2 linked regions of the Homo sapiens genome follow. The protein of the gene in region 1 purifies or fractionates together with the protein of each later gene. This does not show direct contact. Each region holds a gene or a part of one and is shown on either strand. Other genes may lie near its edges.

Region 1 (3,627 bases):
TCTTAGACTGGTTAACGAGCTTGTTTTAACAAGGAATGAAGTACTGTCTTTATTTTCAAATTATACATTATTAACAAAGGTCTCTGGCTTATTCTTTAATTGTTGCATAATCCACCAGAGAAATAATGCAATAGGACACTATTTCTTTGGCCTAATATAAAATGTTTGACTTTCTACCGAACCTAAGAAAGAGTGCCAGCAAAATAATTTCTTCCCATCTAAAACCTGATTTGTTTTGGATACAAGGGGTCTAGGATTTCTTGGGACATCTAGAACCATTAAGAAACTTTAAATCCCCTCTAAAAAGATGCTTAGATGATTTTCCTGAAGTTGGGCTTATTTGTGTCTAGCAAATATAAATTGCTTATAAAGGCTAATGAAAGAGCAATCCAATTTGTTGTTTTAAAGTTTTCACAATCTTACCTATGTCATATTATTATTATATTCCTAATAATTAACACAAGTATCAAAACCCTTCAAAGTTCATATCCATAAATGCTAACATAAAAAGGATACTGCTTCCAATTAGAGATACAAGACGAGACACAGGCAGTGGTCTATCGAATACAAATCTGGAATCCAAACACTCCTGACGCATAAAATTACTAAAAAAGAAACAAAAAAAGTTTAGTAATTTCAAATTATAGACAACTATTCCAATCTAAATTGTTTGATTTCACTTCAAATTCTTCCAAGCGTTTACATGGATAACATCCATATAAGAAAAACAGAAGGTAAGAAAGACATGCCTGCAAGGGTGCGTTTTTGTGCTAAACTCTGGAGCCACATAAGGTTTTTAAAAAAGACTGAAACATTTTTTAGCTCTAGAAAATCTTTGTATCAGAGCACTTATGGAACAGAGAAGAGAAGGCTGAACAAAAGAAAAACAGCAACCTCTCTTCTCTTATCCTTCCCACTGTCAGCAAGCTTGTCGTAATTCTAGATCTCGAACCAGCAAAAAGATTATCTACTCTGTCCTTTTTTCTTGAAAGCAGACTAACATTTCTCCAAAAGAGCAAATATAAGAAATGGAAAACACAGCAGGGGGGATCTTTACGTGTTTCTGCCACTGTTACTTCTATTCATAAGAAGCACTCTAGAGGAGATACTGGACACTAGCCGCTGAGTCTCACTGTTAAATCTGATGAAATTCAAGCAAGGTTAACATTGGGGAGAAGAGAATTTATGCCTATAAATAAGATAAACAAGAAATGGATATGCTCCTTTTTCTCAATGTTGCTTTGTCCAGTATATGCGTATGTCACATCTGATCATCACATGGTTGACTACAGGAACCAAGCTATTTGTTCAGTACTTATATTTAAGTCCATTTCCCAATGCTGCCTAAAAGTATACTGCCCAATATGGCAGGCAATAATCACATGTGGCTATGGAGCTCTTGAAAAGTAGCTAGACTGAATTGAGATGTACACCAAGTACAAAATAACATACCAAATTTCAAAGACTTAGTACCTAAAAACGTGCAATAACTCATTAATAAAGTTTTTATATTGATTATGTGTTGGCATGGCAATATTTTATAGATTGGGTTAAATAAAATGTTTGATAATATAATACATTTTCCATTTTGAAGAGTAGGTGGAAACCCTTAAGGCTGTCATTATATTGCTGACTTAGAGCAAGGGACTGGCTGAGTAAATTGAAATTCTTTTTTTTTTTTTTTAATACTGAGTTTCGCTCTTGTTGCCCAGGCTGGAGTGCAATGGCATGATCTCAGCTCACTGCAACCTCTGCCTCCTGGGTTCAAGCGATTCTCTTGCCTCAGCCTCCCAAGTAGCTGGGATTACAGGTGCCTGCCACCACGTTCAGCTAATTTTTTTATTTTTAGTAGAGACAGGGTTTCACCATGTTGGCCAGGCTGGTCTTGAACTCCGGACCTCAGGTGATCCACCCGCTTCAGCCTCCCAGAGTGCTGGGATTACAGGCATGAGACACCATGCTCAGCCTGAAATTCTTAAACCATAGCATTACTATTTACACTGTTTTTGCTGCTGCTGTTGTTTTAAGAATAGGGTCTCACTCGGCTAGGTGCTGTGGCTCACGCCTGTAATCCCAGCACTTTGGGAGGCCGAGGCAGGTGGATCACGAGGTCAGGAGCTCTAGACCAGCCTGGCCAATATGGTGAAACCTCGTCTCTACTAAAAATGCAAAAATTAGCCGGGTGTGGTGGCACATGCTTGTAGTCCCAGCTACTCGGGAGGCTGAGGCAGAAGAATTCCTTGAACTCTGGAGGCGGAGGTTGCAGTGAGCCGAGATCATACCACTGCACTCTAGCCTGGGCGACAGCGCGAGACTCCGTCTCAAAAAAAAAAAAAAGAATAGGGTCTCACTCTGTTGCCTACGCTAGAGTACAGTGGCACTATCATAGCTCACTGCAACCTTGAAATCCTAGGCTCAAGCAATCCTCCCACCTCAGCCTTTTGAGTAGCTAGGACAACAGGTGTGTGCCACCACACCCAGCTAAGTTTTAAAATTTTTTGTAGAGATGGGGATTCACTATGTTGCCCTGGTCTCAAATTCTTGACCTTAAGCTTCTCAAAGAGCTAGAATTATAGGTAGGAGCCACTGTGCCAGGCCCACCCTTATAATTTATATTCTTTCTTTCCTAATCAAATCACAAATTTACAAGATTAGTTTTAGCTAACTACCTGCCATCCACAACACACATACTCACATAATACCTGAAAGGCTCTGTGTTAGTGGTTTACAGTAGGCAATTTAAAATATTTAAAAATAGGCTGGGTGCAGTGGCTCACACCTATAATCCCAGCACTTTGGGAGGCTGAGGTGGGCAGATTACCTGAGGTCAGGAGTTCAAGACTAGCCTGGCCAACATGGCGAAACCCCGTCTCTACTAAAAATACAAAAATTAGCCAGGCGTGGTGGCGGGTGCCTGTAATCCCAGCTACTCGGGAGGCTGAGGCAGGAGAATCGCTTGAACCTGGGAGGTAGAGGTTGCAGTGAGCTGAGATCACACCACTGCACTCCAGCCTGGGTGAGAGTGAGACTCCATCTCAAAAAAATAAATAAATAACATTTAAAAATAGCCTTGATAAAGAAAACACTGGAAAAAATTCAGTGTTTAGGTATTTAGCCAAATCTCAGATACTAAGTGGTGAAGGTGAGAACTCAATATGTGCAATTTCAAAGCCCTATCTCTTCATTTATGTATTGCCTTTTAACCATAAATAATCTGTCTCTTCTAGACTCTCACAGAAATTTTTCTGTTATATTATAGATAAACTACATTTGAGTTTATAGATAAACTTGCCTTCAAGTTCCCTTAAGACAAGATCCATGTCTGAGTCACTTATGTATACCCTGCAGTATCCAGTATTGAGCATTGCAAAAAATAAATGTCTAATAAATACTGATGTATTGAAGAAAACAAGCACAAAGAAAACAAGTGTGGTTCAGCTTGTCCTTAGAAACCAGACAAAAGTATCACGTTCTTCTTAGACATAACAGGGTCTCAAACGATATACATTGTATTAACAAACATCACATTACTCAGTGACTTCTGAAAAGTGCTAATGTTTAATCTTATTAGTTACTCCTACAGGGATCAAAAAATGGAAAATTTAATAACAAACTCAAAACCACCAA
Region 2 (3,429 bases), on another chromosome or scaffold:
ACCTCTGGAGAAGGCCCAAGACTGGAACCCACTCCAAGTGGTGGGATTAAAGATTAAACGCTAAAGAGTACAAATGACCAAAGCAGGTACCTGAGGTACTCTGGATTTGGGATAGAAGAGAGGGGAGAAGGGAAGACGATGAAATAACAGGAAGAGAAAGAAGGACCTGAAGCCTCTGAATCCATAAAAAGGAAGGAAATCAAACTATAATTGACATCTAAGTGCCACGGCACTTATAGTTTGCAAAGCATTTCTACCTACGTGCTTAATCCTAAAAAGAACCCACCAAGGTGGGGATTACTCCAACTTTATAGATGAGGAGACAAAGCCTAGAGAAGTCAGACTTCACAAGACCGCAAATGCAGTAATGGGGCAGTGTAGGGAGGTGCTCAAATGTAGGCCCAAGAGAGAACACAGCAAAAAAGGAGTGCCCAGAGGAGGGGTTTAGGGAGAACACAGCAAGAAGAGACGTGCCCTGGGGTTTCACTGCAATGAGGAGATAAATGCATCAATTCACAAGGCAGAATTCTGAGGAATGCACACACAAATCTAAAGCATATTTATACATCACTTTAATTCTAATTGAGGATGCACGTCACAGTCATGTCTGATTGAAACTCTTAGATTACAGTCTTCAATCCCAACAAAAATCCCATTTCATCCCTCTATCACTCACAGCCAAATGAGGAAGTATATACTGCCCACTTTGCCTCTCCTTCACCAGGTGGGTCAGTATGAGCCTTTTGGCCCACACACTGCTGAGAAGGAAGCTCAAAAGATTAACCCCTTAAAAACAAAACGGGAGCGCGGCCTGATGACAAACTGAAATTCAATCCATTTATTTACACGTACATTGTACATAAGTTTACAAATTCTCACTTCTGCCACTCAGCTAGAACTTTTCGGGGAAAGCCTCCATCTCTTCCTTGATCCTGTTTTCTACAAGTAATGCGAAGTTACTGTCTGTGTTCTGAAGGTTATAGCTGACAAACACCTGTTTGTTGGTCTTCCTGGCTAAAAAGAGAAAACACATTGATACAGCCACTCCTGAAATACTGCAGGCCCCGTGTTCCTCACAGCCACGTGCAGCTGGGAAATGCTCAGAAAGAGGATGGGGTTGTAGGGAGAAAAGAAAGCTCTAATCTCCATGCCTCTCTTCAGACAGGTGCTGCAAATGCAGACGAGTCACTCAGGCCTCTCCCAGTCTCTCCACCAGACCCAGGGTTCTGAAGGGCAGGCCCCACCTCAGCAGCCTCCCTGGAACTTGTTCGAGAGGCAGCTGCTGGGCCCCACCCAGCCCTCCTGACCCAGAAAGCCAGGATTTGGGGCCAGCTGTCTGCTGGAACAGATCCTGCAGGTGCCCCGCACTGCTTAAGAACCTCTGCCCTACACAGAGGGGTTTCTGGTGTTTTGATTTAAAAAAAAAAAAAAAAATTTAAACACAAAAAATGGCCGGGAGCGGTGGCTCACGCCCATAATCCCAGCACTTTGGGAGGCCGAGACGGGTGGATCATAAGGTCAGGAGATCGAGACCATCCTGGCTAACACGTTGAAACCCCGTCTCTACTAAAAATACAAAAAATTAGCCGGGCATGGTGGCGGGCGCCTGTAGTCCCAGCTACTCGGGAGGCTGAGGCAGGAGAATGGCGTGAACCCGGGAGGCGGAGCTTGCAGTGAGCCAAGATCGCGCCACTGCACTCCAGCCTGGGCAATAGAGCAAGACTCCGTCTCAAAAAAAAATAAGTATTTAAAATAAAATATTAAAGTTCTCCTTCAGCACCACCCCACCCCAACCAGTTCCACTTCCCTCCCTCCTACGTTTCCATGCATTTGCATATATGTGTATACACACAAATATATTTGTGTGTGTGTGCACAGATAGGCATATGGACACACACGTAATTTTCTACTGAATGTAAGTTTTAGTCCCCTTCTACAGAATCAATAGAAAATGGCTGAGGTGCACATTGGGCCAACTGCAAAAATCAAGCAGAGTCATACACCTGGAATCTGAAAGCCAATATCCTGAAAATACGTGGGCAAAAAGGCTAAAGCAGTTGGATGTTGCCTGCCCCACTGCGCGGCCTCCTCCTTTAGCCTCACCCATACGCAGGGCCAGTGCAGAACTACTCACCCCTGGAGAGGCACTGACCCACCCCCACCTCAACATATGGCAAGCATGTACTTAGCCTCATCACCAAAAGGCAAAAGGGTGGTGCGGTGAGGCTGAGGGCACCAGGCCACCTGCACCATTACTAAAGGCCGATTTAGAACACACGTCATGGGATCTCATCTGGGCAGCAGTTCTGTCCTTTCAGTTGCTGCCATCTGAGCTATGGTCCCACCAAGAACCCTGAGAGGCAGTGTGGCTCAGGGGCGCAGGTGCAGGCGCAGGCCCAGGCCCCACCGTGGCCTGGAAACCTCTCCCAGCTTTGTTTGGAAATTGAGGAGAGGGAGAGCCCAGGACCCCAAAAGCCTGTTTTTCCGCTGTACAAGGCTGCGTGATTTTTAGGGCTGGAAAGGTCTTGGGTATTAACTCACTGACTGTCCTTACAAAGCAGCCAACACACCTATGAAAAAGCAAGGCGGCGGCAAGCACAGCCTCTGCCTGAGGACAGCTGCTGAATTGTATGACATGTGTTTACGTCTCGGTAAAGCTGTTTTTTTATTAAAAAAAAAAAAAAAGGAATGTGTCCGGACAAAGGCAGCTGTTCGGTTATTCCAAGAGCTGGTGTTTAAAGAACAGCTTACAGTACTTAGCACAGAGCCTCCCACCAGTGTGCTGGGTGCAGTGTGCCCCCGAGGCGGAGAGTTGTGCCCAGTTATCTGCTCAGCCCTGCGGGGAGTGAGGAAGCCTCTTAGGCTTCCCCCACCATTAGGGACCAACCTCATCCTTTCCTAGCTGTGTTAGGCAGGCTGGGACCACTCATGTAGAGGGTGATCTAAAGGCAGGCAGTGTGGTAGGAAGCTGGGGCTCACCAAGGCTGCCTAGGAGGAGCCTGTAAGTCACACCCTGCCCTATATCCCAGGGGCAGGAACATCCCCCTTTACCCTAAGGGGGCCCCCCTGGTATTCCAACTGTTCTAACTGCAGAGACAGGATTTCTGAGGAACAACGCTGTGTCTGGAGGCACTGAGCCCCTCAGACCCAAGCTGTGCCCCTCCAGGGCCATAGGAGGTTGGGTCCCCTTGGCCACACCAACTCCTGCGATGCTTCCAGAGCTACTGAGAACCCCCCAGGCCTTCTCTTTCCCTACCTGCTTTCATCTCTCATATAAGATACTGATTCAGGACACCTCTCCCTTTTCATTATAGTGCATTTTCAACTTGAGGGCCCAGACCCAGGCTCAAGGCAACTGGCAAAGCATGGGACTTTGCTGGAAAACCTTCTTGGTCCGAGCTCTGCAGCACCATTCCCTTAAGAGACGCC

What was found. Proteins that work in one complex are often made in the same cells at the same time.
Region 2: the proteins of PSMA1 (region 1) and PSMG4 purify together in Homo sapiens (affinity purification with mass spectrometry; 4 studies listed by BioGRID and IntAct, with this or other methods). This does not show direct contact.

The regions. Positions count from the first base shown.
Region 1 is NC_000011.10:14,513,887-14,517,513, forward strand, and holds part of PSMA1 (proteasome subunit alpha type-1), read right to left. Parts: intron 606-3,627; coding exon 517-605; coding exon of another isoform or gene 467-516; exon of another isoform or gene 24-466; intron 2-23; coding exon 1-1. UniProt on the Homo sapiens protein: Component of the 20S core proteasome complex involved in the proteolytic degradation of most intracellular proteins. This complex plays numerous essential roles within the cell by associating with different regulatory particles.
Region 2 is NC_000006.12:3,265,176-3,268,604, reverse strand, and holds the end of PSMG4 (proteasome assembly chaperone 4), read right to left. Parts: exon of another isoform or gene 1,015-3,429; coding exon 893-1,014; 3' UTR 556-892; downstream 1-555. UniProt on the Homo sapiens protein: Chaperone protein which promotes assembly of the 20S proteasome.